7 linked regions of the Homo sapiens genome follow. The protein of the gene in region 1 purifies or fractionates together with the protein of each later gene. This does not show direct contact. Each region holds a gene or a part of one and is shown in the gene's direction. Other genes may lie near its edges.

Region 1 (3,500 bases):
AATCAAAATGTTTACTTAGTCAGGTGCAGTGGCTCATGCCTGTAATCCCACCACTTTGGGAGGCTGAGGCTGGAGGATCCCTTAAGGCCAAAAGTTCAAGAGATTAATCTGGGCAACAAAGTGAGAACCCTGTCTCTATAAAAAATTTACAAATTAGTTGAGCATGGTGGCATGCACCTGTAGTCGTGGCTACTGGAAAGGTTGAGGCAGAAGGATTGCTTGAGCCCAGGAATTGGAGGTTGCAGTGAGCCATGATTGCACTCCAGCCTGGGGTGACAGAGCTAGACACAGTCTCAAAAAAAAAAAAAAAAAAAGTTTACCCAAAGCACAATTTCTCAAGACATCATACTCTTACATAGTAGATGAGATACTTAATCCTAATCTTTTCATAGCCTTTCATAGTTTTAAATGAAGAGCACAAAACCAAGTTAGTATGCAGTACATATGAATGTCCTAAACATCTTCATAGCTGTATCTTTATAATTTCTGGCTCATCGTTGCTATATTTATTGATATTTTCTTACAAAAATCTTTCATTTACTGGATTTTTATTTTCTTTATCCTCATCTATAAATTGAAGGCATTAACCTCAGAATACTTAAGTTTAAAATGAAATATAAAATCACATGGAAAGCGAGAAAGCTAAAAACAATGGTCTGTGCACAAGGCTTTTCATCACTTCTGAGCATTTGAGAAATCTCTTCAGTCTATTTGGTAACACTACAAAACTTGAGAATGAAAGCACACCTCAAATCTTTGGGTGTTTACCAGCCATTGTTCCACAGTGTTATAATCCTTATGGTTACAAAGTATATACAATTCAAACTGTTATTAATTTGATTTTGTTAACTCAGTTTACACAGCTCTGAATTTTAACTACACAAAGATAAGCAAATATTTTGGGATAAATTCATGAGCACTGAGTGCGCTGATATAAGCAAGAGGTTCTCAGTGTGAAAACCACTCCCATTTATTCAACGAATATTTACTGAGAACCTGTGATTCAGACAGCAGGCTGGTTGGAGTGTCCTCTTATCCACATTTTATTAAAGCTTTGTTCCCAAAGGTTGTGGATTGAGATGAATTCCTCTAACAAATGTCTCCTGCCTTGAGGAAGTAACAATTTTTAGGGTTGAGGGGATTAAACCCTCGAGTCTTCGGTATGTTTTGTAAAGATAGAATAACAGTGTGAAAAAATTTCCTAATACATGTCTCAAAACATTTTATAGGTTAGACATTAATAGCTCTGCAATAGTTATTTACTGAGCAATAATTAGAATAGAGCAATTGGAATTCTATGCATGATTATTCTTTAGGATGCTGAAATGCTACCAAAAGCTTAACAGAGCAAAGCACAGGGTGATTCTTGGCATTGATGTATGTGCTCAGTTTTACTCCGTATTGGAGAGAGCAAGTTTCAAGGATTTTGAGCAGGAGACAGAGATGTCACTGTCCAGATTAGCACTCTGGACTTGCCCACCTGGCTGTGCTTGTAGCTGGCAGCTGCGCAGCACTTGGTGAGGCTACCCTGCTAGCTACATCATCAGACATCACACTGTGGTGCTCACTTAGCCCCAAAAAGGCAGTGAGGCAAATAAAGGGATTAAATTGTGAAAGTATAATGTAATAATTAGAGCAGTAATTGTAAGGAAGATTGGAACGGCCCCTCCTTTCTGTGGCCAAATACGGTAGTGATAGCAGTTGAACTCCAAAGATGTTGAGTGTGGCCCAGACTCTTATTCCAATGCTGAAGCTGCCTTAGAGTTCATTCTCATGCCTTCAGACAGCATTGCAGCCAAACCACCCTTAACAGATCGTAGTCTCTCCCTCCCCTCCATTAAAGCTCTCCAAGGAAAAGGAAGAGATTATGTAACTCCCCTTGACAACAAGCCTTGCTAGACTAGAGCCCCAATGGACAGGCCGTTACATAAATGTGACTCCTGCCTCACCAGGGCCTGGTTCTACTCTCATTGACTTAAGGGACGTGTGCATCCATAGGCATTTTCATGTACACCATCATCTGTTAAGATCTTTCCTTTTTAATATATCTTCTTATTATTTTTGAGACAGGGTCTCACTGTGTTGCCCAGGCTGTTGTACAGTGATGTGATCTTGGCTCACTGCAGCCTCCACCTCCTGGGCTCAAGTGATCCCTTCCCCTCAGCCTCCCAAGTAGCTGGAAAACAGGCATGCACTACCATGCCTACCTAATTTTTCACTCTTTTGTAGAGACGGGATCTCCCTATGTTGCCCAGGCTGGTCTCAAACTCCTAGCCTCAAATGATCCTCCTGCCTCAGCCTCCCAAAGTGCTGGGATTACAGGCATGAGCCATCTTACTTCTTATTTTAACAATTTATTTTTAGGATTGGTTATCGAGTGTGTAATAAATATATACGTTTAAAAAGTTGGGAAAAATACTTCTTAAACTTGGCACCAAAAGAACATATATCCAGACCATATCTTGAGAAAAGTAATACAAATTGTTCTTTTCAGAGCTGAATGTGCTATTTCTGTTGTGAAAGACAATTAATCATGGATTTCAATGAAAGGTAAATAGAAAGGAATATTTTACTTGTTGACTATTTTCAAGTTATCATTGAAAAACTATTGAATTATGTCAGCATTTAGTTGGGTAGAAGCCAAAGTTTTGCTGTTTTGTTTTTGTTTTTGGCTGACCAAAATACTTTTTACAAAACTTTGACAGCTCTACCCTGTCATCCAATAGGGTTACAGTGGCAGCAGTGATTTCACGTCATTTTCTAGGCATAGTAATTTTGGGGATGTGATATTGTTATTCTTCTGATTTTTTTTCCAATTCCAATTTTGGCCTTAATTCATAAATGATTGGAGTCTGCCTTCTTTCCCTCCTTCCTTCCTTCCTTCTTTCTTTCCTTCCTTCCTTCTTTTCTTTTCTTTTTTTTTGGGAACTTCTCATTAAGAGTTTCCCCTAGACTCTTGTTAAGGAGGCAAGAGAAGGAAAACATCCTTATACCCAAGTATAAGTAATACCCAAGTATTACATATTTCATTATTTAATAGACAAAACACTAGCCTCCTGAAGTTTTTATGTCCATATAATAAAGAAAATAATTTTATAAATAGTTTTCTTTGTGTAGATAATATAGCCATTCTAACTCCTCATTATAGTGCTAGAAATAAAGTATTCTTCTTTCCCCCACATTTAAAAGGTGGGAAATTGTATATTTAAAAATATGAGATTTTAAAAAGATGTTCATTATAGCATCGGTTTTGGATTTATATAAAGCCAGGCCCAAGTCTCAGCCACTTACCAGCTGTGAGACCTTAACCCCTCTTTTCCTCTGTTTCCCAAGTGATGAGGGTTACATGAGAGAATGAATATCGAAGTACTTGACCCATAGTAAATGTACACTAAATTATTAACTTTGGTTGATATTGGGAATATGACTGGGATACCCAGAGGCTGGATGGTTCGTGTAATCTAGCACAGAGTTATCCTTGATGCTAAACTAGAAGGACA
Region 2 (4,031 bases), on another chromosome or scaffold:
GTAGATAATCAGAGACATAAATTTTACTATACGAGGTAGGTCAATGGTCTGCCTTCCACCCGTGGACTAGTTTTCTGCAATATCTTTCTTAAATTTTTGACACAAGACCATTGTGAGTGAAATGGTGTTGTAGCGCAGTGTGTCAGGTATTGATTTCATGCTGGGGTGGGCCTGTGTTGTCCCGGTTCTGAATTACAGCAGTGTATCACATCTGCTTGCACCACTCCCAGTTCAGCTCTGACTGCATAATAGTCATGGAGCTGGGATTTACCAATCTCTTCAAGTTAATTAGAAATGGAAAATCAGCATGGTCACAGAGGAAAAAATAAATAAGATGGCGATGCTCCAAGGATGTGGGGATTCTCCCCATAGGAGTTGTCAGGTCAACTGCTCCCACTGAGGTCCGATGCCTGGGGGTACATGGGAGCCGAAGGGGGGTTGTGTCAGGAACTCCCTTCTCATCTCACCGTCCCAACTTACTATGTGAAATTATCCAATTTCTACCTTCAAATTGAAAAACTGTCCTTTAATTCTCTCTCTCACCACAGGAGTCCTAAAGACTATACATTCCAACTCAGCAACTATTTCATACAGCCTCCTTAGAAAATGATGGGGGTGGACACCCCACTTGAGGAAAATCCATTCTTTATAGACAGCATCCCATGTGGCACTTTATGGGTTAAACTTGTGTTGCAGAGAAGCGGTATCAAGTGGCTTTCCAGGAGATAACCCCCATTTAAAAACTGCCATCTCTAAAAGGTGAGCCAAATGCCCATGAGTTTAAACTGCTTTGTATGAAAGGAACAACCCAGTGTGTTTGAGTTTGCTTCTGTCTCAGTGTCTGTCATCTATGCAACCGATTATCAGGATGAAGACTGTCAATCACGGTTAATAAAAACCTCAGAACACGACACAGATCTCTTTTACTATAGATGTATTTGATGATAGCCTCACTTTATTATGTCACATAAATCAAAAGGGAAGCATTTATCTCATCATTCGGAGGCACCCCTTCTCTCCCTGTGTCCTCACCCCTCCCCCCGTACCAGTTCTCAGTCCCTCAAAGATGCTTTGTGCAAGAAAGTGCAAGTTTCCCGTTCTGGCTTCATTTTTGTTCCCTTTTGCGATCCTCCTGGCTCCCCCCCAAACCAAGCTAGCAAAGCAATGGCCCCGGTTCCCCCCCAACGCCTGACCTGCGTTTACTGGGAGGAGAGCGGGAGAGGGAGCGCGCATTCTGGAGCAGGCTGCTTTGACTCCGACCACAGGCTGTTTTGTGCAGGCTGTCCCTCTTCTTCAAAATCGTGCATCCCCTCCCCGAAGCAGCAGGCAGTGTGCCTCCATTCAGCCACATTTGGTATGCATGAGCACGGCTGCAGAGAGAGGGGAGGTGGCTGTTTTAAGAAGGTTCAGGGGCTCAGGCAAGGCTACTTGACTAGTCTTCCAAGTTCCAGGAAGCCTCTGCCCTAATGGAATTTGCAGGTGTGGAGATGACCATGGGATGCCAGAGCCGTGGGGGACCGTTTATTTTCTAGGCATTGCTCAGGTTTTCAGTTTCTTGTTTTCCTGGTGGAATTTGGAAGGGGTCATGAATCAGGCTGATGCTCCTCGACCCCTAAACTGGACCATCCGGAAGCTGTGCCACGCAGCCTTTCTTCCATCTGTCAGACTTCTGAAGGTACTGTAACTTGCAGCTTTGAATGGCGCTAATTGTGCTTTTTAGATTTAAATACCCAACTTGGGGACTTGGGCTGGGACGCACCTTTGGGGGAGCCTAAATGCATGCAGTACTGGCTCTGTGGTCCGTGGCTGGAGAGAGGTTCTCAGTACTCCTGCCCTCCCCCCACGCCCCCCACCCACACCCCGTGGTGTCAGAGACAAGAGGCTGGTGCGAACCACACTCGAGAAGGAGATTTTGGTCTCAGAGAATGGGCTACCTGGTGCTCCCCCACCCCTTTTAACCATTCCTAAAACAGAATTAATTAACTTCTTTGGGAGGGTGGGAATAGTAGTGGGAGTGAAATCTCTTACTCCCTTGTGTTTGGCTCCTGGGCTTTTCTTTCTCTCTCCCTGGGGAAGCCCTTCGACCCACTTTCCCTTTAAATGGAACCAGAGAGAACAAAGGATTCTCCTCATTAGTTTAAAAGCTTTGTGTAGTTAGGTGGCCAGTCAGGTGAAGATGAACAAAGAATGAGCCTCCTCAGACAGTGACTTTTTTTGTGTCCTTGTTTTTAGAAAAGGCATAAAAATGTGAGTCTCCTGAGTGGAATCAGTAGTGGGAAAGTATTGTTAAACATATATTGAATGTCAGCTCTCTCTCTAGCTGTGAGTCACACAAAAGAATGGCACTACACCTGAGCAGGAATTGCCACCGTGTGTCTGCAGCGCTTCTCTTTCCAGAAGCAAATGCATTAAAGATACTGAAAAAGTCCATACAACTCTGTACTAATCCACCTTCATGATCTTTCTTGTAGGGGGGAAAACACAAATTAGATTTAAAGGTGCAGGAAACAAGCATTTTTGCCCAGTAAATAGAAGGTGGTAATACTTAATAGGGAAAAATAAATATCTCTGATGTTCTATATCCATTCGAAGTTAAAAAAGGCAAAGTTCTTAATTCTCTTTTCCTGAGTATGTATGCTCTTTTGATTTAGTGACCACAGAGCATTGAGTCCAGTGGGCTACAATGGAGAATTAATGAATTAGCCCTGAATACGTTACACTTGGAGAATTTTGTTCTGAGGATGTGTTCTGGTTAGGTAAGATTTGATGGGGACAGTTAGTTCCATACAGCTAAGTGGTGCCTCACAACAGAGTATTACCCCTTGCCTGAGTTTTCCTTTTCTTGTTAAACACCAACTGGTATTAACTTTCAACAAAGGCTGCCCCAAGTGCTGTTCAAACTCCCATCATATGGTTGTCATGGCGATGGCTTGCTTCCCTAGGGACTATTTAGGAGGAAAGGCAGGTTTGGGTATGGGTAGTAGAAGAGACTTTTCCTTGGATATGTGTGTTTTTGCTGTGTTGTAACAACATGTGTGATAGGGCAAGAAAAAGAATGAGGCCAGAGAATTAACAAATTGGTGTACATTTTCTCCAGAATCACTAGTGAATCAAGAGTCAGGGGCAAAGAATGGGCATATCTAAGTCTCCCTGAAAGAATTCAACTCCAGTAATTCGAAGTGCAATGAGAAACATTTTTTCAGTTAAAGTCATGTATCAGCTTTAACCCAAAATAATGCTTTTTAACTCTTCTTGACAGATAGGTGACTATCACTCTCCATATATGATTAATTAATATGCTAGTTTTTTTTTAAATGGAGAATGTTATTCATTTACTAGTCACAAAACCAGCAGAGAAGTACCTACCTGAGGTACTTCTTTTAGAAGAAGCTCTGTCTTTTTAGGAGAGTGAGTTCTGTCATCTTTTTTAACTGAAAGTGCTGTCCATACTTTCAGGAGACATTGTTAATGCTACAGCCATACTTTCATTGGCATACAGCTCAATCTTACCATCCTTTATTAAAGTGATGCTTTGTAATAATTTATTGAATAAAGTGCATTACTGTGTGTCCTTCCCATTTTTTCAATATCTAAAAGACAGGATGGAACCTTACTGGAGAACTTTTTTCCCAAATGACATCTGTATTTTTGAAAGATCATAGCTATCTTCTGAGACTTCAGATATTGAGCACATTTCAAACTCTTAAAAAAATAAAGTCATACCAAGTTCTTTCAGCAATACTTAGAAAGAAAGCAAAGCTGCTTTGGTATATGAGCAATTGTATTGTCCACTCTCTGGCTGTGAATGCTATGTATTTTTTTCCTATGGATTGTTGTATGTTTCTCCTATGGATTCCTGTGTTTGCTTTGCTAGTTCCTATGTATTCTTGCCATTTTATCTTTTGAGTAAAATGTAAGTTCATGAATAATAATTTGCATGTTTTGGTAAATGCTCTTCCTGGCTTAATCTAGAAATGAAATATTTAATAACAGTATTTCTTATGTCCTTTCCTTTCTTTCTCCTCCCTCCC
Region 3 (3,500 bases), on another chromosome or scaffold:
AAGGAAGGTACAGAGATTTGCCATATACCCTTGCCCCCAACATGCATAGCCTCCCCCATTATTAATATTCCCCACCAGAGTTGTAGATTTGTTATAATTGATGAACCTACATTGACACATCATTGCCACCCCAGAGTCTGTAGTTTACATTAGGGTTCACTCCGTGGGTTTGGACAAATCTGTAATGACAGGTATCTACCATGGTAACATCACACAGAATAGTCTCACTGCCCTGGAAATCTGCTCTACCTTTTCATTTCTTCTGTCCCCCAACTCCTGACAACCACTGATCTTTTTACCGTTTGTACAGTTTTGCCTTTTCCAGAATGTCATATAGTTGGAATCACGCAGTATGTAGTGTTTTCAGATTGGCTTTTTTTTCACTTGCTGATAGGAATTTAAGGTTCCTCCATGACTTTCATGGCTTGATAGCTTAGCTCTCCGGTATTTTAAAATTAAAGCCTAAACTTAAACCTGATTTCCGAAGGCCTTCGGGTACTTTTAAGTTGGAGAGTTAGGCCCTTGACTTTGTCTTGAGCTGTCTGCTTTTACTTTGGGATCCTGTACCTCCCCAGGAAAACCCTGAATTTTCCTCCTGGAGGCTTAGACTCAGGCTGCCCTTTTCTGTGTCTTCCTTCTCCATTTCCATGATTCATCCTGCGAGCCCCTGCTCACCAGCCACTGTTTTGGCGATGCCCTCTCCCTCACCTCCAAGCCAGCTGTTCCATCTTCTGTGTGGCAGTACGCAGGGCCAGCAGAGCACTGACCTTGGAATCCCCTTACTGGGTTTGAGTCTTGGTTCTGCGATTTGCCAGCTTCGAGGCCTTTGGCGGGTCACATAACCTTTCTGAGCTTCTGTTTCCTGAAGTGAGAAGATATGATGATTAAGATTGTTGTGAAGAGGCCGGGCACAGTGGCTTACGCCTGTAATCCCAGCGCTTTGGGAGGCTGAGGTGGGTGGATCACCTGAGGTCAGGAGTTCGAGACCAGCCTGGCCAACATGATGAAACCGCGTCTCTACTAAAAATACAAAAATTAGCCGGGCATGGTGGCGCATGCCTGTATTCCCAGCTACTTGGGAGGCTGAGGCAGGAGAATCACTTGAACTGGGGAGGTGAAGGTTGCAGTGAGCCAGGATCACACTACTACACTCCAGCTTGGGTGACAGAGTGAGACTCTGTCTCAAAAAAAAGATTGTTGTGAAGAGTCAGTGAAAATCGAATGACAACATGGATTTAAAGCATGTAACACATGCCTGGCACAGAATAAGCACCAAATAATAGATATATCTCTTCATCTATAGATCATATTAAGTGTTAGGACATCACTCCTGGACGTTAAGCTCCACAAAGGCAAGAATTTTCGTTTATTTCATCCACCTTGTTTTTCACCATAATGAATAGATCAGTGCCTGGAATATAACAGACATTTAATCAGTCCTCATTGAATGATTAGGAAATCACTCCTGGACGTTAAGCTCCACAAAGGCAAGGATTTTCGTTCATTTCACCCACCTTTTGTTTTCACCACAGTGAATAGATCCGTGCCTGGAACATAACAGACATTTAATCAATCCTCATTGAGTGAATGAATATGCTAGACTATGAGCCTCTTCAGGGCAGACACTGCTTCTTGTTTTATATCTTCAGTCTGAGTGTTCCTGAGAAGGGATGGAATACAAGTCTGGTGGAATGAACTGGAATGTCCTCTCCCCGCCACCATCCCTGCCATTTTAATGTATTCATAGCCTACCTGAACTTTAAGCCCCCTCTTGAAAGCCTGCCCTCTCTGGAAAGCATTTTTTTTTTTTTGAGATGGCGTCTCACTCTGTCGCCCAGGTTGGAGTGCAGTGGTGCAATCTCGGCTCACTGCAACCTCCCGGGTTCAAGCGATTCTTCTGCCTCAGCCTCCCAAGTAGCTGAGACTACAGGCATGTGCTACCACACCTGGCTAATTTTTATATTTTTAGTAGAGATGGGGTTTCACCATATTGGCCAGGCTGGTCTTGAACTCCTGACCTCGTGATCCGCTCGCCTCGGCCTCCCAAAATGCTGGGATTGCAGGCATGAACCACCGCGTCCAGCCTCTAGAAAGCCTTTGAAGCTAACTTCTTCTGCTTCCACCACCCACGTGGCTTGTGCCACTTACTATCCCATGGTATCTGAGTGTGCTTTTATTCCTACAACTGGATTGAAAGCTCTGGGAGGACAAGAAATTATTTTTATCCTGGACTAGCAGTGTGGTTGCCTAGAAGAGCGTTTTATAGGTTTCAATGTCAGGTTCTCTGAAAGAACTTTGTATTTTAAACATTTGACTATGGAAAATGTCAACTCATACAGAAGTAGACAGTAGAGAGAACAGTATGGTGAATCCCCATCCCTCCATCACCCAGCGTCCACTGTTAAAGACTTGCAGTCACTCTTATTCCATCTCCATGTACAAGACGTCATTTCATCTGTGACTATTTCGTTGTGTATCTGTGAAGAGACTTCTGAGTGCTATTGCATGGATTTCTCCCAATAACTGTGAGACTGGCTTTCCCCATTTTGTAGGTGATGAAACTGAGGTGCAGGGAGGTTAGGTCAGTTGCTCAGGGTCTTGAAGCTAGTGAGCGGCTTACCTGGGATTTGAACCTTGACTGTGAGCAGCTCCCTCTCCTTCCAGGCTTGGGGCAGGGGGCCCTTGGAGATACAGGTACACCTTGCCATTTCCAGAAGAGAGGAAGCTGAGGTCCAGCTGCTTGGCTGGAGGAAGCCCAGGCCCCTGACTCCCTGGCAAGTTCATTTCCAGTGTCAGGTCTTGCGAGGTGCGGTGGGCCTTAGCTCTTGGGGAGGGCCAGGGTGGGTAGTCCTCTGAGAGACACCATTGCCCTGAGTGGCTGGGCTTTGGATGGCCGTGGGACCCTGGGGCAAGGTCTACCACCACCCCTGGACAGACTGCATTTTCTTCCTACTCTTGTCATTCCTAAATCCCAAAGGTCCTCCTTGCAGCTGACCACGAGTTCTCTCATGAGATGCTCAGGACTACCCAGTGAGGGAGAGGGAGCCAAGGGGTCAGCAGCTGGGTTCACAGAGCTCAGAGAGGAGGGGCCTGGCCTGAGGTCACCCAGCTGGCCTGGGCACAGGGTTGACAGGCTCTTGGTGGCATCTGGACCCTTGGGCTCCCACCCTGCTCTTTCCTCAGGATAGAGACCGAATTGCTACCCAGATCTGGAGTAGGAGACCAGAGACGAGACCTGAGAGACTTTCACAAATGGTGGGATAAAGCCATTGATTAACTGTCCCCAAAGGCCTGTGATGACTGTTTGGTGTTTTAGGTAAGAAAACAAACATTTGCCCTAATTGTTTGCTTCAGTGACTGAGAGGGCTGTGAATTCTAGGATGGGGTTCTGCTTGGGCAAAGCCCTGGGAGCTTGGCAGAGAATTTCTTTTGGCCTTCTTTTTCTATCTAGGAAATGGGGACGATAGTAGCATATGCTTTGAAGGCTTTTAGTGAAGAAT
Region 4 (3,500 bases), on another chromosome or scaffold:
AGTCTACCAGATGTCAACAAAAGGCTAGGAAAAGTAACTGATAATATAACACAGTTCAATGCTGTCATTATCAGATTATCTACATCTTCCCTATTTCCCTACATATCTAGAAATTGACAAGTGGAATTGAACTTGCAGGAGCCAGATGTGATTAAAGAATCTGAAGAGTAAATAGTGCCCTGCTTGCAGACAGATTTATTTCCATCATTGTACAAGTCAGAGCAACTCTAATTTGTAGGACTGGGGTGGATCACAGCTGTGCATTAAAACTCAACCAAGTTCTATGAGAGAATGATGGTGCACAGCCACTATCATTCTTGATGAATTCATTGTGTACGGAAGGTGCCTTAGGGCTTAACTTTCTATTGGAGTCCAGTTGAGAAGCTAGGAAATGCTTAATGCTCAGTAAGGAACTGTGTGTTAGTTCATTGGACTAGAACCAGAAGTCCTTTTGAACAGTGACCAAGCACTAAGATTTCTATACGAAGGCAGTTTAGGAAATACTACACAAGAAGCACTGGAAGTAGCCTAGCAGTCTAACAGTGAAAGAACGGTTAAGTACGTGAGAGTAGATCCTGTTGGTGAAGGATGTAGTCATTGTAAATTATGGTTTTTTTTAAGTTTCAGCGTTATAAATCTTCATTCTTTGACTTATGCTGTGCAAATTATTTAATCTTTAATACCTAAATCACAATGGCAGGAATAAAAAGATGTTACGTTTAAACCATTAAACACTTAGAAGGTGCTCAGTAAATGGTGAATATATGTTTATTACCATGTATCAAATGAAAAAATAATTTGTTAAATTGTTTCAATGGAGGCTGCAAAATTATGTATATATGCCATGATTACAAACCTTTTTCTTTTTAGAGACAGGATCTTCCTCTGTCACCCAGGCTCATATGCAGTGGCATGATCATGGCTTACTGCAGCTTCAAACTCCTGGGCTCAAGCAATCCTTTCACCTCAGCCTCCCAAGTAACTGGGACTACAGGCACATGTCACCTTGACTGCTAATTTTTTTTTTTTAATTTATTGTAGAGACAGGGTCTTGCTCTGTTGCACAGGCTGGTCTCAAACTCCTGGCCTCAAGCCGTCCTCCCACCTTGGCCTCCCAAAGTGCTGGCATTACAGGCATGAGCCACCACACCTGGCCTACAAATATATATTTGTATATTATATGTATTTTGGATGTGTATATACACATATACACAAATAAGAAAAGACAAAAGAGAATGCTTTTGTCTTTTCTTATTTTGACACTCTAATGCCAGCCATGGCTGTTAAAGAATGATTTTAATAAAATACACTGTACTTGTTCACTGGCTCTATTTATTTACCATCTTTTGTTCCCCCAGAAAATTGATATGTTGACATTAAAATGCCATGTTTGTAGAGAAATTAAGTTGTAGTTGTTGGCACATGTTTAGTATGCATAATCACAGAGTTAACTTTAGCTTTGAATTTAATTTAATTTTCTTAAACAGCAAAAAATGAAAATTGCCTGGGGAGTTACTTAAAGAAATACAGGATTGAGAATGAAAAGTTTCTCCTACAAGGATTAGAAAGCGTGTTGCTATGAAGTAGTGATAAAACATTCATCTACAATGCCTTTTCCCTTAATTTTAACAGCGGAAACATCTTGGAAATATATTTATTTTTCAATTAGGCCAAAATACCTTACCTCAAAGATAACCTCTCACTTTAAAAGTCATATTCCTGTGATTTGCATGTGAGTAAAAACCATCATATTTTAGTGGGCTTCAGGAAGCTCTTAAATTTTAAAACATGGGCCAAATCTCAGGTAAGCTATATTCATTAATAGTACATAAATTTCTTGAGAATTACATGTTTCTTAGTTGTTCTGGGAAGTGCACTGGTACTGGCAGGCTGCTAGGCCCTGCAGCATGCTGTGTAGTTGAAGATTTTATGCTGTTTCTCACATGAATTTTACCTAAGCACAAAGTTGCCAGAGTATGTAGACTTAAAGCAGGGTAGGATTCTTAGCCTCTCCCTGGTACTGAGACACAAAAAGTACCTCTTATAGCTCGATTTTTTTTAAGTCCCAACTCTTCCCTTTTAACCACTCTCCCTTGTTCTGAAAATCAGATCAGTCACTTTGAAAGTTCTAAGAACCTTTTCCCTTGGTTGAGTACTGACCTGGGTTGTCCATCATTAGTAACACCCTCCCAGTGGAGTAGGTTTGGTTTTGGCCTGGCACAGGAAAATTAAGACATATTTTAGTTCCTGTAACAGCAGCTTCCCAGGCACACAGGTTCCTGTTGAATGTTACTTTTCCCTTAAAGAGTCCTTCAGTATGAGATGTGAACATCAGCAACTTGGTGATAAGTAGACCAATCCCCACGAATTGCTTTCATTTACTGTATTTAAGTGTTTCCTGCTAAAAGTTGAGAAAATAAGAAAATAGATGACTTTGTAAAACCAAATTAGATAATTTAGAAAACCACTTGGAGATAAAAAAAATTATATATTTGGGGCTGGTAAACGGAGTAGTGTGACAGACACATTTGTTTTGTTTAGATCATGCAGTGGTGTGCCCATCTGTGCCTTTGATCCACTCAGATTAAACCAAGACCACGTTTCAGATTTTAGTTCCCGCGGATATTTTCCATGGCTATGCCTTTTTTTTTTTTTTTTTTTTTTTTTTGAGACAGAGTCTCACTCTGTTTCCCAGGCTGGAGTGCAGTGGCATGATCTCGGCTTACTGCAGCCTCCGCCTCCTGGGTTCAAGCGATTCTCATGCGTCAGCCTCCGGAGTAGCTGGGATTACAGGCGCATGCCATCATCCTCAGCTAATGTTTGTATTTTTAATAGAGACGGGGTTTCACCATGTTGGCCAGGCTGGTCTCAAACTCCTGACTTCAAGTGATCCTTCCACCTTGGCTGACCTCAAGTGATACTTCCACCTCGGCCTCCCAAAGTGTTGGGAATATAGGCATGAGGCACCAGGCCCAGCCAGGCTATGCCTTTTTAAAATAAACTTACAGAAAGCTATTTTTATTTGACAGTAAGTGATTAATTTCTTCAGCATGCACATAGGAAAATATGGTGAAAATTTACATGTGGTTGATAAGAAAGCTAGCTTTTATTGACAATCACTTAGAACAGGGGTCCCCAGTCCCTGCGCTACAGACTGGTACTGGTCCATGGCCTGTTAGGAACAGGGCCTCACAGCAGGAGGTGAGAGCAGCAGGCAAGCCAAGCATTACCACCTAAGCGAGCTCCACCTCCTGTCAGATCATCAGGGGCATTAGATTCTCATAGGAGCACAAACCCTAGTCTGAACTGCAGGTGTGAGGGGCTAGTTTGTGCACTCCTTATGAGAATGATGCCTGATGATCTGTCACTGTCTCTCATCACCCCTAGATGGGGCCATCTAGTTGCAGAAAAACAAGCTCAGGGCTCCCACTGATTGTATATTTTGATGAGTTATATAATTATTTCATTATATATTACAATGTAATAATAGAAATAAAGTG
Region 5 (3,500 bases), on another chromosome or scaffold:
GCAGGCCTGTAATCCTGGCTACTCAGGAGGCTGAGGCAGGAGAATTGCTTGAACCTGGGAGGCGGAGGTTGCAGTGAACAGAGATTACGCCACTACATTCCAGCCTGGGTGACAGAGGAGACTCCATCTCAAAAAAAAAAAAAGTCTTTTATTTGTTTTACGTGGGTCTTGGGATTATAGTGTTTTCTTCTTTGTGCTCTTCTGTGTTCTTCCAAATGTTTTACACAGAATTTGTGTTACTTTTGTAGTCAAAAAAAGTATTCTTTAATTTTCTAATTTTCAAAATGATTGTTTTTTCTTCCCTGTTAGGTATTAATATAGTAGGGAAATAACACTCAAAACAAGTCAGGAGGCCAGGTGCAGTGGTTCATGCCTGAAATCCTAGAACTTTGGGAGGCTAAGGCAAGAAGATTGCTTGTACCTAGGAGCAGGAGGCGGAGGTTGCGGTAAGGCCACATCATGCCAGTGCACTCCATCCTGGGCAACAAGCCAGACGCTGTCTCAACAAAAAATTTAAAAAGTCAGTAAATTTCTGCCGGGTGCGGTGGCTCACACCTGTAATCCCAGCACTTTAGGAGGCCAAGGTGGGCGGATCATGAGGTCAGGAGATTGAGACCACCTTGGCTAACACGGTGAAACCCCGTCTCTACTAAAAGTGAAAAAAACTAGCCGGGCGTGGTGGCACGTGCCTATAGTCCCAGCTACTCGGGAGGCTGGGGCAGGAGAATCGCTTGAACACAGGAGGTGGAGGTTCCAGTGAGCTGAGATCGTGCCGCTGCACTCCAGCCTGGGCGACAGAGTGAGACTCCGTCTGAAAAAAGAAAAAAAAAAAAAAGGCAGTAAATTTCCAGTGTTTTTTCTTTGAGATGGGGTCTCACTCTGTTGCCCAGGCTGGAGTGCAGTGGCAAGATCTGAGCTCACTGCAACCTCTGCCTCCTTGGTTCAAGTGATCCTCCCACCTCAGCCTCCCAAGTAGCTGGAACTACAGGCACATAGCACCACATTTTTTTTTTTTTTTTTTTTGAGACGGAGTCTCGCTCTGTGGTCAGACTGAAGTATGGTGGCACTATCTCTGCTCACTGCAACCTCTGCCTCCTGCGTTCAAGCGATTCTCCTGCCTCAGCCTCCTGAGTAGCTGGGATTACAGGTGTGCACTACCACCATGCCCTGCTAATTTTTGTATTTTTAGTAGATACGAGGTTTCACCCTGTTGGTCAGGCTGCTCTCGAACTCCTGACCTCGTGATCCACCTGCCTCAGCCTTCCAAAGTGCTGGGATTACAGGTGTGAGCCACCATGCTCAGCCACCTTTTTTTTTTTTTTTTTTTTTAAGATGGAGTCTCACTCTGTAGCCCAGGCTAGAGTGCAGTGGCACGATCTCAGCTCACTGCAACCTCTGCCTCCGGAGTCCCGGTTGGTTCAAGCAGTTCTCCTGCCTCAGCCTCCCAAGTAGCTAGGATTACAGGCACGCATCACCATGCCCAACTAATTTTTGTATTTTTAGTAGAGATGGGGTTTCACCATGTTGGCCAGGCTGGTCTTGAACTCCTGACCTCGTGATCCGTCCGCCTCGGCCTCCCAAAGTGTTGGGATTATAGGCGTGAGCCATCACACTGGGCCTTGTTTTTCTTTTTGTTTTTGTTTTAATTTTTGGTAGAGACGGGGTTTCACCATGTTGCCCAGGCTGGTCTCAAACTCCTGCACTCACGCAATCTGCCTGTCTGGGCCTCCCAAAATGTTGGGATTACAGGCATAAGCCACTGCACCCAGCCAGCTTTCATTCTTACCAATCTATAAGTCATGCAACATAAACTCTACATCATCTCCTCCATTGGGTTGCTTTGAAGTGAAGTACACCTTCGATAGTACAATGAAGTCTTGTGATATATAAAGTACAAAGTTGTGTTTACCGGGTAGACAAGTTAATAATTCATAGACCAGCTTTCCTGGTTGGGGAAGAGTATAATTTAAAGTTGCTGTAAAATAGTAATTTTAACAAACGTATCTACTTATGAGGTTTAGTAGATCATTTCTTTTAGTTAATGAGATTGTTTTTCATGCATATTACTTTTCATTTAGGTAGTCAAACCACACACTCCATTAATAAGGTTTCCTGACAGAAGAGACAATCCTAAACCCAATGGTGAGTTGTATTTTATTTAAATTTCTTTTAAAATTGTGTACATGAATATTTATAAATGAGTATTTTATTATAGGCAATATTTCTCATTTTAAAATCAGTTAAGACTATTGTAGCTTAGATCAAAATAGTGCCTTATGTAGCATGCAAGTAGAAATTAACTTATGGCTGGGAGCGGTGGCTCACGCCTGTCATCCCAGCACTTTGGGAGGCCGAGGCACGCGGATCACCTGAGGTCAGGAGTTCAAGACCAGCCTGGCCAACATGGTGAAACCCTGTCTCTACTAAAAAATACAAAAAATTAGCCAGGCGTGGTGGCGGGCTCCTATAGTCCCAGCTACTCGGGAGGCTGAGGCATAGAATTGCTTGAACCCACGAGGCGGAGGTTGCAGTGAGCTAAGATCATGCCACTGCACTCCAGCCTGGGTGACAGGGCAAGACTTTGTCTCAAAAAAAAAAAAAATTATTACCTCTATTTTATTTTATTTTTTGAGACAGGGTCTTGCTCTGTCGCCCAGGCTGGAGTGCAGTGGTGCTATCTTGGCACACTGCAGTCTCCCCCTCCCGGGTTAAAGCAATTCTCGTGCTTCAGCATCCTTAGTAGCTGGGATTACAGGCATACACTAGCACGCCTGGCTAATTTTTGTATTTTTAGTAGAGACAGGGTTTCACCATGTTGCCTAGGCTGGTCTCGACTCCTGATCTCAGGTGATCTGCCTGCCTCCGCCTCCCAAAGTGCTGGGATTACAGGCATGAGCCACTCACCTGGCCTTTATTACCCCTATTTTAAAAGGTAGTGACTCAACAGAAGATGTCTCTGAATTTCTAGTGAGTTTATATGGGCAAAATTTTGTCCTACCTTTATTCTCTCCTATCCTTTAGAAGATTCTCCCATGCTTACATTTGCAGAGACTGGGAAAATAATAACCATTCCTGTTTCTCTCCTCACCAACCATCTTTTCTTTCATTCATTCATTTATCTATTCATCTAGTCAGTAAATATTTTTTGGATTGCCTTAATCCTTAGCATTTATTCAAAATTAATGGGAGAAGATTCTGAAAGGGTTCTGTTTTTCTCTGATTCCCGCCCTTTTTTAAAAAAACCAGATCCTCTGTGCCTCTCTTGATCTTTAATTCAGGCAATTTTAACACATTTTATAGGTATATTTTTAACTTATTGTAACTATTGAAGAATTAAGATGTTTAAACAAGTGTAAAGATATTGAGAAAACTACCCTCATTTACATTTACTGACTTTCTTATTCCTTATTGTAAGATATTACCTGTAAACTCCACCATGTGTTGGCCTATGAGGGGTTATGTGACATAAGCTTAAGTAGTGTAGGTTCCCCTAAAGGGTT
Region 6 (3,500 bases), on another chromosome or scaffold:
AGCAACTGCACCCGGCCTAAATGTTGGATTTTTAATGTGTTCCTTTAAGGAATAGTGATTTCATTATCTTCTGTTATTTTAGGAAAGAGTTTGGGACCAAATAAAGTTTCTTGGGTTACTGTAATTCTCTAGGCAAAATGAAGTACATATGATACTATGAATAAAAAGTTGTGAGACTATAAAAGGGGAGAGCTATATAGAAGGGGGATAGAAAATAGAGTGGATAAAATATTTGTAAGGGGCTGGGCACAGTGGCTCACACCTCTAATCCCAGCATTTTGGGAGGCTGAGACGGGAGGATCAGTTGAACTCAGGAGTTTGAGATCAGCCTGGGCAACATAGTGAGAGCCCCTTTCTTTTTCTTCTTTTGTTCGTTTGTTCTTTCTTTTTTTCTTTACTTTTTTTTTTTTTTTTTTTTGATGGAGTCTTACTCTGTTGCCCAGGCTGGAGTACAGTGGCGCGGTCTTGGCTCACTGCAAACTCTGCCTTCCGGGTTCAAATGATTCTTCCATGTCAGCCTCCCAAGTAGCTAAGACAGGCGCCTGCCACCACGCCTGACTAATTTTTTATTTTTAGTAGAGATGTGGTTTCACCATGTTGGCCAGGTTGGTCTCGAATTCCTGACCTCAAGTGATCACCTGCCTCGGCCTCCCAAAGTGCTGGGATTACAGGTGTGAGCCACCGTGCCCGGCCTTGAGAGCCCATTTCTATAAAAAATTTAAAAACTTAGCTGGGTGGGGTGGTATGCATCTTTAGTCCCTGCTGCTTGTGGGGCTGAGGTGGAAGGATCGCTCAGGAGGTTGAGGCTACAGTGAGCTGTGACTGTGCCGCTGCACTCCAGCCTGGGCAACAAAGTGAGACCTTGTTTCAAAAAATAATAATTCATATGGAGAGTCTTTATTCTCACAACAACAATTTATTGAGTGTTTACTGTGTGCCAGCAGTGCTCTAGTTGCAGGAACTATAGTGGTGAATAAGACCAACAAGGCCACCTGGTGCTTAAGGAGCTTAGACATTTAAACCTGAGGTTCGAGTTGGATTTCCAGGTGAGCATGCCAGGCTAGGGCAGCCTAACCAAAGTCATGATTATCAGTGCACTTGAATGGTTAAGTGGGGCCAGTGCCTTGAGTTTTCAAAAGGAATGGATAGGGCAGATGGAGATAGGGCCAAGTTGCAAAGGTACCTTATTAGTCCGCTAATGGGTTGGGAATTTTCTTCTTTTTGGAGGAAAGAATTCCAGGTAGAATGTGAAGAATGAGATAGGCATTCCTTTTATTTTTATTTATTTATTTTTTTTGAGACAGAGTCTCACTGCGATGCCCAGGCTGGAGTGCAATGGCACAATCTCCGCTCACTGCAATCTCCACCTTCTGGGTTCAAGTGATTCTCCTGCCTCAGCCTCCCGAGTAGTTGGGATTGCAGGCATGTGCCGTCATGCCAGGCTAATTTTTGTATTTGGTAGAGACAGGGTTTCACCATGTTGGCCAGGCTGGTCTCGAACTCCTGACCTCGGGTGATGCACCACCTCGGCCTCCCAAAGTGTTGGGATTATAGGCGGGAGCCACCATGCCTGGCCCTGACATAACTTTTTAAAGATTTTTCTGGGGCTACGTGCAGTGGCTCATGCCTGTAATCCCAGCACGTTGGGAGGCTGAGGCCGGTGGATTGCTTGAGCCCAGGAGACCAGCCTGGGCAACATGGCAGAACCGTCTCTACAGAAAAATTAAAAGATTATCTGGGTGTGGTGGCACACGCCTGTAGTCCCAGCTACTCAGGAGGCTGAAATGGGAGGAGCAGTTGAGCCCAGGGGTTTGTGGCTGCAGTGAGTGGTGATCATGCCACTGCCTGAGACTCTTTCTCAAAAAAAAAAAACAACAAAAATATTTTTCTTTATTATCCTTAAGTTGAGTGAATACAAATTTTTTTTGAGATGGAGTTTTGCCCTTTCACCCAGGCTGAACTGCAGTGTCAGGATATCTGCTCACAGCAACCTCTGCCTCCTGGGTTCAAGTGATTCTCCTGCCTCAGCCTCCCGAGTAGCTGGGATTACAGGCGCGTGCCACCACACCCAGCTAATTTTTTATATTTTTGGTAGAGACGAAGTTTCACCCTGTTGGCCAGGCTGGTCTTGAACTCCTGACCTCAAGTGATCGCCCACCTTGGCCTCCCAAAGTGCTAGGATTACAGAGGTGAGCCACTGAGCCCAGCCCAGTGAATATAAATTTTATTGGTTTTATTTATTTTAGTTTGGTTTATTTATTTTGATTTCTTGGTCATCAGATTAAATAAATCTGATAGTTATTTTTCTTTAGTTGTCAATTTCCAGTCTTGGTTTTGAGTTTGACTGTTGTCATGATACTCTTCTGAATCCTTTTAGCCTTTACCTGTACCTCTTTTCCTTACTTTTTCAGAACTCTTATGATTCCACTTAAAGAAGCAGTGTTTTTTACTTCTGTGTGGGCAGCTTCTCTCAGCAGAAGTGGGATTGATGTTCAGTCAGTCAGTTTTCACACTCAGCCTACAGGGCCTTGTAAAAGTAAGGAGCAGGAGCAGGGTGAAACTAAAAAGTAATCTTGCTTTTTTAAAGTTATCTTTTTTTTTTTTTTTTTGAGACGGAGTTTCGCTCTTGTTGCCCAGGCTGGAGTGCAATGGCGCCATCTCCGCTCACCGCAACCTCCGCCTCCTGGGTTCAAGCGATTCTCCTGCCTCAGCCTCCCGAGTAGCTGGGATTACAGTCATGTGCTGCCACGCCTGCCTAATTTTGTATTTCTAGTAGAGAAGGGGTTTCTCCATGTTAGTCAGGCTGGTCTCAAACTCCCGACCTCAGGTAATCTGCCCGCCTTGGCCTCCCAAAGTGCTGGGATTACAGGTGTGAGCCACTGCGCCCGGCCTAAAGTTCTCTTCTATATTCCTGAACTGCTAGGAGAGGAAACTATGTGATCTATGTGTTATACAGATTTATCGGAACATATTTGTAGCAGCTGATAATAGTAAATGTGATTTTAAAATACTTTAAAGTAGCCAATATAACTGAGATTTGATAAGTTGTTTGATTAGTTGTTAGGAATTTTGGCTTTAATTTACAGTGTTTTAAGTTTTGTTTCTGTTCTCTTTCATGTCTGTTCAAAATAAGGGACCTCATTCCTCTTTGCTCAGACTCTGCCACTTAATAGGTAGATGGTGTAAATTCCTAAATTATTAACTTGACTTTAAATAATTTTAAAACCTACCTAAATGAGTATTTTCTAGTTAAGTGACAATTAATCTAAAGTGGAAATCTATCAGCAGGGACTTAATGCATATGTGGTATTTATACCTGGTTAAATTAAAAACCCATTTACTGAGCATTTACATGCCAGGTGGTAATGGGCACATAAAATAAGCAGTTTGGGGCAGGGCACGGTGGCTCACGCCTGTAATCCCAGCACTTTGGGAGGCCGAGGCGGGCGGATCACCTGAAGTTCGGAGTTTGAGACCAGCCTGACCAACTTGGAGAAACA
Region 7 (4,220 bases), on another chromosome or scaffold:
CCTGCCAGTCCCGCGCCGTGCGCCCGCACTTCTCAGCCCTTGGGCGGTCGATGGGACTGGGCGTTAGTGGAGCAGGGAGCGGAGCTCGTTGAGGAGGCTCGGACCGCGCAGAAGCTCACGGCGGGGGCGGGGGCTCAGGCATGGCGGGCTGCAGGTCCCGAGCCCTGCGCCGCGGGGAGGCAGCTAAGGCCCGCTGAGAAATCGAGCACAGCAGCTGCTGCCCCAGGTGCTAAGCCCCTCACTGCCCGGGGCTTGCGGGCCGGCCGGCCGCTCCAAGTGCGGGGCCGCCGAGCCCACGCCCACCCGGGACTCGCGCTGGCCCGCAAGCCCCGCGGGCAGCCCCGGTTCCCGCCCGCGCCTCTCCCTCCACACCTCCCAGTAAGCTGAGGGAGCCGACTCCGGCCTTGGCCAGCCCAGAAAGGGGCTCCCACAGTGCAGCGGCGGGCTGAAGGGCTCCTCAAGCGCGGCCAGAGTGGGCGCCAAGGCCGAGGAGGCGCCGACAGCGAGCGAGGGCAGCCAGCATGCTGTCACGTATCACTAGCACTTTGGGACTACAGAGGCAGGAGGATAGTTTGTGCTCAGGAGTTCGAGACCAGCCTGGGAAACAGGGTGACACCTCCTCTCTAAAAATAAACATTTAAAAATTAACGTGGCATGGTGGTGCGCTGTCTGTAGTCACAGCTACTCCGAAGGCTGAGACAGGAGGATCACTTGAGCCTGGGAGGTGGAGGCTGCAGTGACCTGTGATCGAGCCACCGCCTTGCAGCCTGGATGACAGAGAGAGACCCTGTCTCAAATACAACAAAAAAGCAGGCCGGGCGCAGCGGCTCACGCCTGTAATCCCTAGCACTTTGGGAGGCCAAGGCGGGAAGATCACTTGAAGTCAGGAGTTCAAGACCAGCCTGGCCAACATGGTGTAACTCCCTCTTTACTAAAAATACAAAAATTAGCGGCATGGTGGCGCGCGCCTGTAATCCCAGGTACTCGGGAGGCTGAGGCAGGAGAATCGCTTGAACCCAGGAGGCGGAGATTGCAGTGAGCCGAAGCGCCACTGCACTCCAGCCTGGGCGACAGAGGAGACTCTGTTTCAAAAAAAAAAAAAGTTAAAAACAAAACCTTCCATGGAGCCCATGAAAGGCTGGAATTTGGCTTGATCTCATTGGCTTTTGGTTTCACCACAAATTGATCATCCAACAACTTTCATTCCAACAACCGAGGGTGGTGTGAGGCAGAGAGGCTTTCTACGGGGTGGGTTGGGCGCCACACCTTGCGCGCCCCGGGGCCCAAGGAGACGACCCTGAAGAGGAGCCTGGCTACTTTTGCCTCAGACGAGTCCGGAGCGCCGGGTTAACCGGTCTGAAGTCCCAGGGGCTTTCTGGGACTGCTCAGCCACCGGCAGCTTCCGGCACCAGGGGACGCCGGACGCCGTCCGGACATTCGGCGCGCTTGCCACGATCTTGGACGGGTCTCGGGCCTCGACCTTTGAATTCCCCGCTCCGGCTCCAAGATGTCAGCAACGCTGATCCTGGAGCCCCCAGGCCGCTGCTGCTGGAACGAGCCGGTGCGCATTGCCGTGCGCGGCCTGGCCCCGGAGCAGCGGGTTACGCTGCGCGCGTCCCTGCGCGACGAGAAGGGCGCGCTCTTCCGGGCCCACGCGCGCTACTGCGCCGACGCCCGCGGCGAGCTGGACCTGGAGCGCGCACCCGCGCTGGGCGGCAGCTTCGCGGGACTCGAGCCCATGGGGCTGCTCTGGGCCCTGGAACCCGAGAAGCCTTTTTGGCGCTTCCTGAAGCGGGACGTACAGATTCCTTTTGTCGTGGAGTTGGAGGTGCTGGACGGCCACGACCCCGAGCCTGGACGGCTGCTGTGCCAGGCGCAGCACGAGCGCCACTTCCTCCCGCCAGGGGTGCGGCGCCAGTCGGTGCGAGCGGGCCGGGTGCGCGCCACGCTCTTCCTGCCGCCAGGTGAGCCAGGCTGCTGGCGGGTGGTGTGAGCGTCAGTGGCCTGAGTCTCCGTTTGTTTCCAGTGCTGATTTAGCACTGGTTTGGTTTTGGAGCAAGATCAGAGAAGCTAACATTGACTATGTCAGTGGCCACTCTACCAAAATAGAGGGTTTGGTACCGGGCGTGGTGACTAACGCCTGTAATCCCAGCACTTTGGGAGGCCGAGATGGGCGGATCACTTGAGATCAGGAGTTTGAGACCAGACTGGCCAGCATGGTGAAACGCTGACTCTACCGAAAATACAAAAATTAGTCCAGCCTGGTGGCACACGCCTGTAGTCCCAGCCACTCGGGAGGCTGAGGCACGAGAATCGCTTGAACCTGGGAGATGGAGGTTGCAGTGAGCCGAGATCGCACCACTGCACTCCAGCCTGGGTGACAGAGCGAGACTCCGTCTCAAAAAAAGAAAAAAGAAAAAAAAGGATTTTTTGTTAGGCTGTGTACTACGGTTTTTACTTGCATTCTATCAGTTAGTCTCTATAATATCCCAATGAAGTTGGTATTGTTATTCTGCAGATGAAAAAACAGGTTCAGGTCGTCAGGTACATTATCCACTTTGCTATTAATCACTACCCTACAGATTTCTACAGGCATCAGCCTGACTTGTCTAAGGCAGAATGATGACAGTGAATGAAGCTATTACCATGTCGTCTTCTCTAGTGTTCTAGGCACACTGTCTCTTCTCCACTTCTTCATGTGCTGCTTTATCACAGGTCACACTTCAGACTCCACTGCCTTTCTCACCTAAAACCATCTCTGGGTATTTCTTTTTCTTTCCTCCCTTTCTACATAGACATCTGAAATATCAGTACACTAAAAACCAGAGGGCTGATGCAACAGAACATAAAGTTTTGTTTCAATCTTTTTTCTTTTCTTTCTTTCTTTTTTTTTTTTTTTTTTTTGAGACAGTGTCTGTCTCTGTTGCCCACGCTGGAGTGCAGTGGTGTGGTCACACCTCACTGCAGCCTTGACCTCTGGGGCTCAAGTGATCCTCCCTCCATTGCCTCCCAAGTAGCTAGGACTACAGGCATACACCACCACACTGACTAATTAAAAAAAAAAAAAGATTGTAGAGATGGGGTCTCACTACATTGTCCAGGCTGGTCTTGAACTCCTGGCCTCAAGCAATCCTCCTGCCTTGGCCTCCTAAAGTGCTGAGATTACAAGCATGAACCACAGTGTCCAGCCAGGAAAGCAAATTCTTTAAATTGTATAATGGCTTACATTTATAATATTTTGTTCTCTAGGACCTGGACCCTTCCCAGGGATCATTGACATCTTTGGTATTGGAGGGGGCCTCTTGGAATATCGAGCCAGCCTCCTTGCTGGCCATGGCTTTGCCACGTTGGCTCTAGCTTATTATAACTTTGAAGATCTCCCCAATAACATGGACAACATATCCCTGGAGTACTTCGAAGAAGCCGTATGCTACATGCTTCAACATCCCCAGGTTCTCCTCATGTCCTTTATTTAATCAGTCTCTCTAGAAATATTTCCATAGAGAGTGTAACCTTTACCACGTGCAGAAATGCTGCTCTGTTCCTCTTTCACAAAGATGTCTTCTGGAGACTTCCTTGGCTTAAGGTGCTATTTCCACTTTTTCTGTCAGATGAATTTGTGATATAGAATTAATTGTAAAATCCACATGAGATTTTATTTAGTAATATTAAATATTATCTGTATATTGCAAATTGAATTTCTAATCTACTGTCTTTGCATGCTTGTTTTTAAATTTTAATTTCCTGGTGTCAGAGTATGTTCTCAGATTTTGGTCAGAACTTGTCCACCCCTTTCAGAAGCCAAGAACAAACTTACTTACTCTGAAGTCTTGCTTTGTAATCATTTGCCAATACATATGGCAAATGATCTGATGAATGATTCACATCTTGAAACAACCTGGTTCCACACTATTGGATGCATTGCCACATGAAGACTTCAGTCAGACCTACCTGAATGTGGCCCTGAACTTGATGGGATCTGTGGCTCAGCGGCTCAGCGGCTCAGCATTCTCTAGTGGATAATTCTCTGAAATGCTTATAACCAGTTTCCAAGTTTTTCAGTGATTTTAAGATGTGTTTGCCATGTGTTCAGCCAGATATTCTGCACATGGGAAGAAACTCCCCTGTCAGCTGAGGTTGATTTTCTTGTGGATGATTCCCAGATTAAAGCTAGCAGCATCTCTGTTTGCATTTTAGAAAAATGTTTTTGCATTGGATAA

The links.
Region 2: the proteins of ESRRG (region 1) and TRPM3 purify together in Homo sapiens (co-immunoprecipitation; one large-scale study listed by IntAct). This does not show direct contact.
Region 3: the proteins of ESRRG (region 1) and PPARGC1B purify together in Homo sapiens (co-immunoprecipitation; 2 studies listed by BioGRID and IntAct, with this or other methods). This does not show direct contact.
Region 4: the proteins of ESRRG (region 1) and ISCA1 purify together in Homo sapiens (affinity purification with mass spectrometry; one large-scale study listed by BioGRID and IntAct). This does not show direct contact.
Region 5: the proteins of ESRRG (region 1) and KGD4 purify together in Homo sapiens (co-immunoprecipitation; one large-scale study listed by IntAct). This does not show direct contact.
Region 6: the proteins of ESRRG (region 1) and ARK2N purify together in Homo sapiens (co-immunoprecipitation; one large-scale study listed by IntAct). This does not show direct contact.
Region 7: the proteins of ESRRG (region 1) and ACOT4 purify together in Homo sapiens (affinity purification with mass spectrometry; one large-scale study listed by BioGRID and IntAct). This does not show direct contact.

The regions. Positions count from the first base shown.
Region 1 is NC_000001.11:216,671,430-216,674,929, reverse strand, and holds part of ESRRG (estrogen-related receptor gamma), read left to right. Parts: intron 1-3,500. UniProt on the Homo sapiens protein: Orphan receptor that acts as a transcription activator in the absence of bound ligand. Binds specifically to an estrogen response element and activates reporter genes controlled by estrogen response elements.
Region 2 is NC_000009.12:71,118,822-71,122,852, reverse strand, and holds the start of TRPM3 (transient receptor potential cation channel subfamily M member 3), read left to right. Parts: upstream 1-1,231; 5' UTR 1,232-1,498; coding exon 1,499-1,675; intron 1,676-4,031. UniProt on the Homo sapiens protein: Constitutively active, non-selective divalent cation-conducting channel that is permeable to Ca(2+), Mn(2+), and Mg(2+), with a high permeability for Ca(2+).
Region 3 is NC_000005.10:149,736,810-149,740,309, forward strand, and holds part of PPARGC1B (peroxisome proliferator-activated receptor gamma coactivator 1-beta), read left to right. Parts: intron 1-3,500. UniProt on the Homo sapiens protein: Plays a role of stimulator of transcription factors and nuclear receptors activities. Activates transcriptional activity of estrogen receptor alpha, nuclear respiratory factor 1 (NRF1) and glucocorticoid receptor in the presence of glucocorticoids.
Region 4 is NC_000009.12:86,276,039-86,279,538, reverse strand, and holds part of ISCA1 (iron-sulfur cluster assembly 1 homolog, mitochondrial precursor), read left to right. Parts: exon of another isoform or gene 1-1,322; intron 1,323-3,500. UniProt on the Homo sapiens protein: Involved in the maturation of mitochondrial 4Fe-4S proteins functioning late in the iron-sulfur cluster assembly pathway. Probably involved in the binding of an intermediate of Fe/S cluster assembly.
Region 5 is NC_000005.10:69,224,260-69,227,759, forward strand, and holds part of KGD4 (alpha-ketoglutarate dehydrogenase component 4), read left to right. Parts: intron 1-2,078; coding exon 2,079-2,142; intron 2,143-3,500. UniProt on the Homo sapiens protein: Molecular adapter that is necessary to form a stable 2-oxoglutarate dehydrogenase enzyme complex (OGDHC). Enables the specific recruitment of E3 subunit to E2 subunit in the 2-oxoglutarate dehydrogenase complex (OGDHC).
Region 6 is NC_000018.10:46,177,034-46,180,533, forward strand, and holds part of ARK2N (protein ARK2N), read left to right. Parts: intron 1-3,500. UniProt on the Homo sapiens protein: AMPK substrate important for exercise capacity and skeletal muscle function.
Region 7 is NC_000014.9:73,590,453-73,594,672, forward strand, and holds the start of ACOT4 (peroxisomal succinyl-coenzyme A thioesterase), read left to right. Parts: upstream 1-1,420; 5' UTR 1,421-1,507; coding exon 1,508-1,964; intron 1,965-3,249; coding exon 3,250-3,452; intron 3,453-4,220.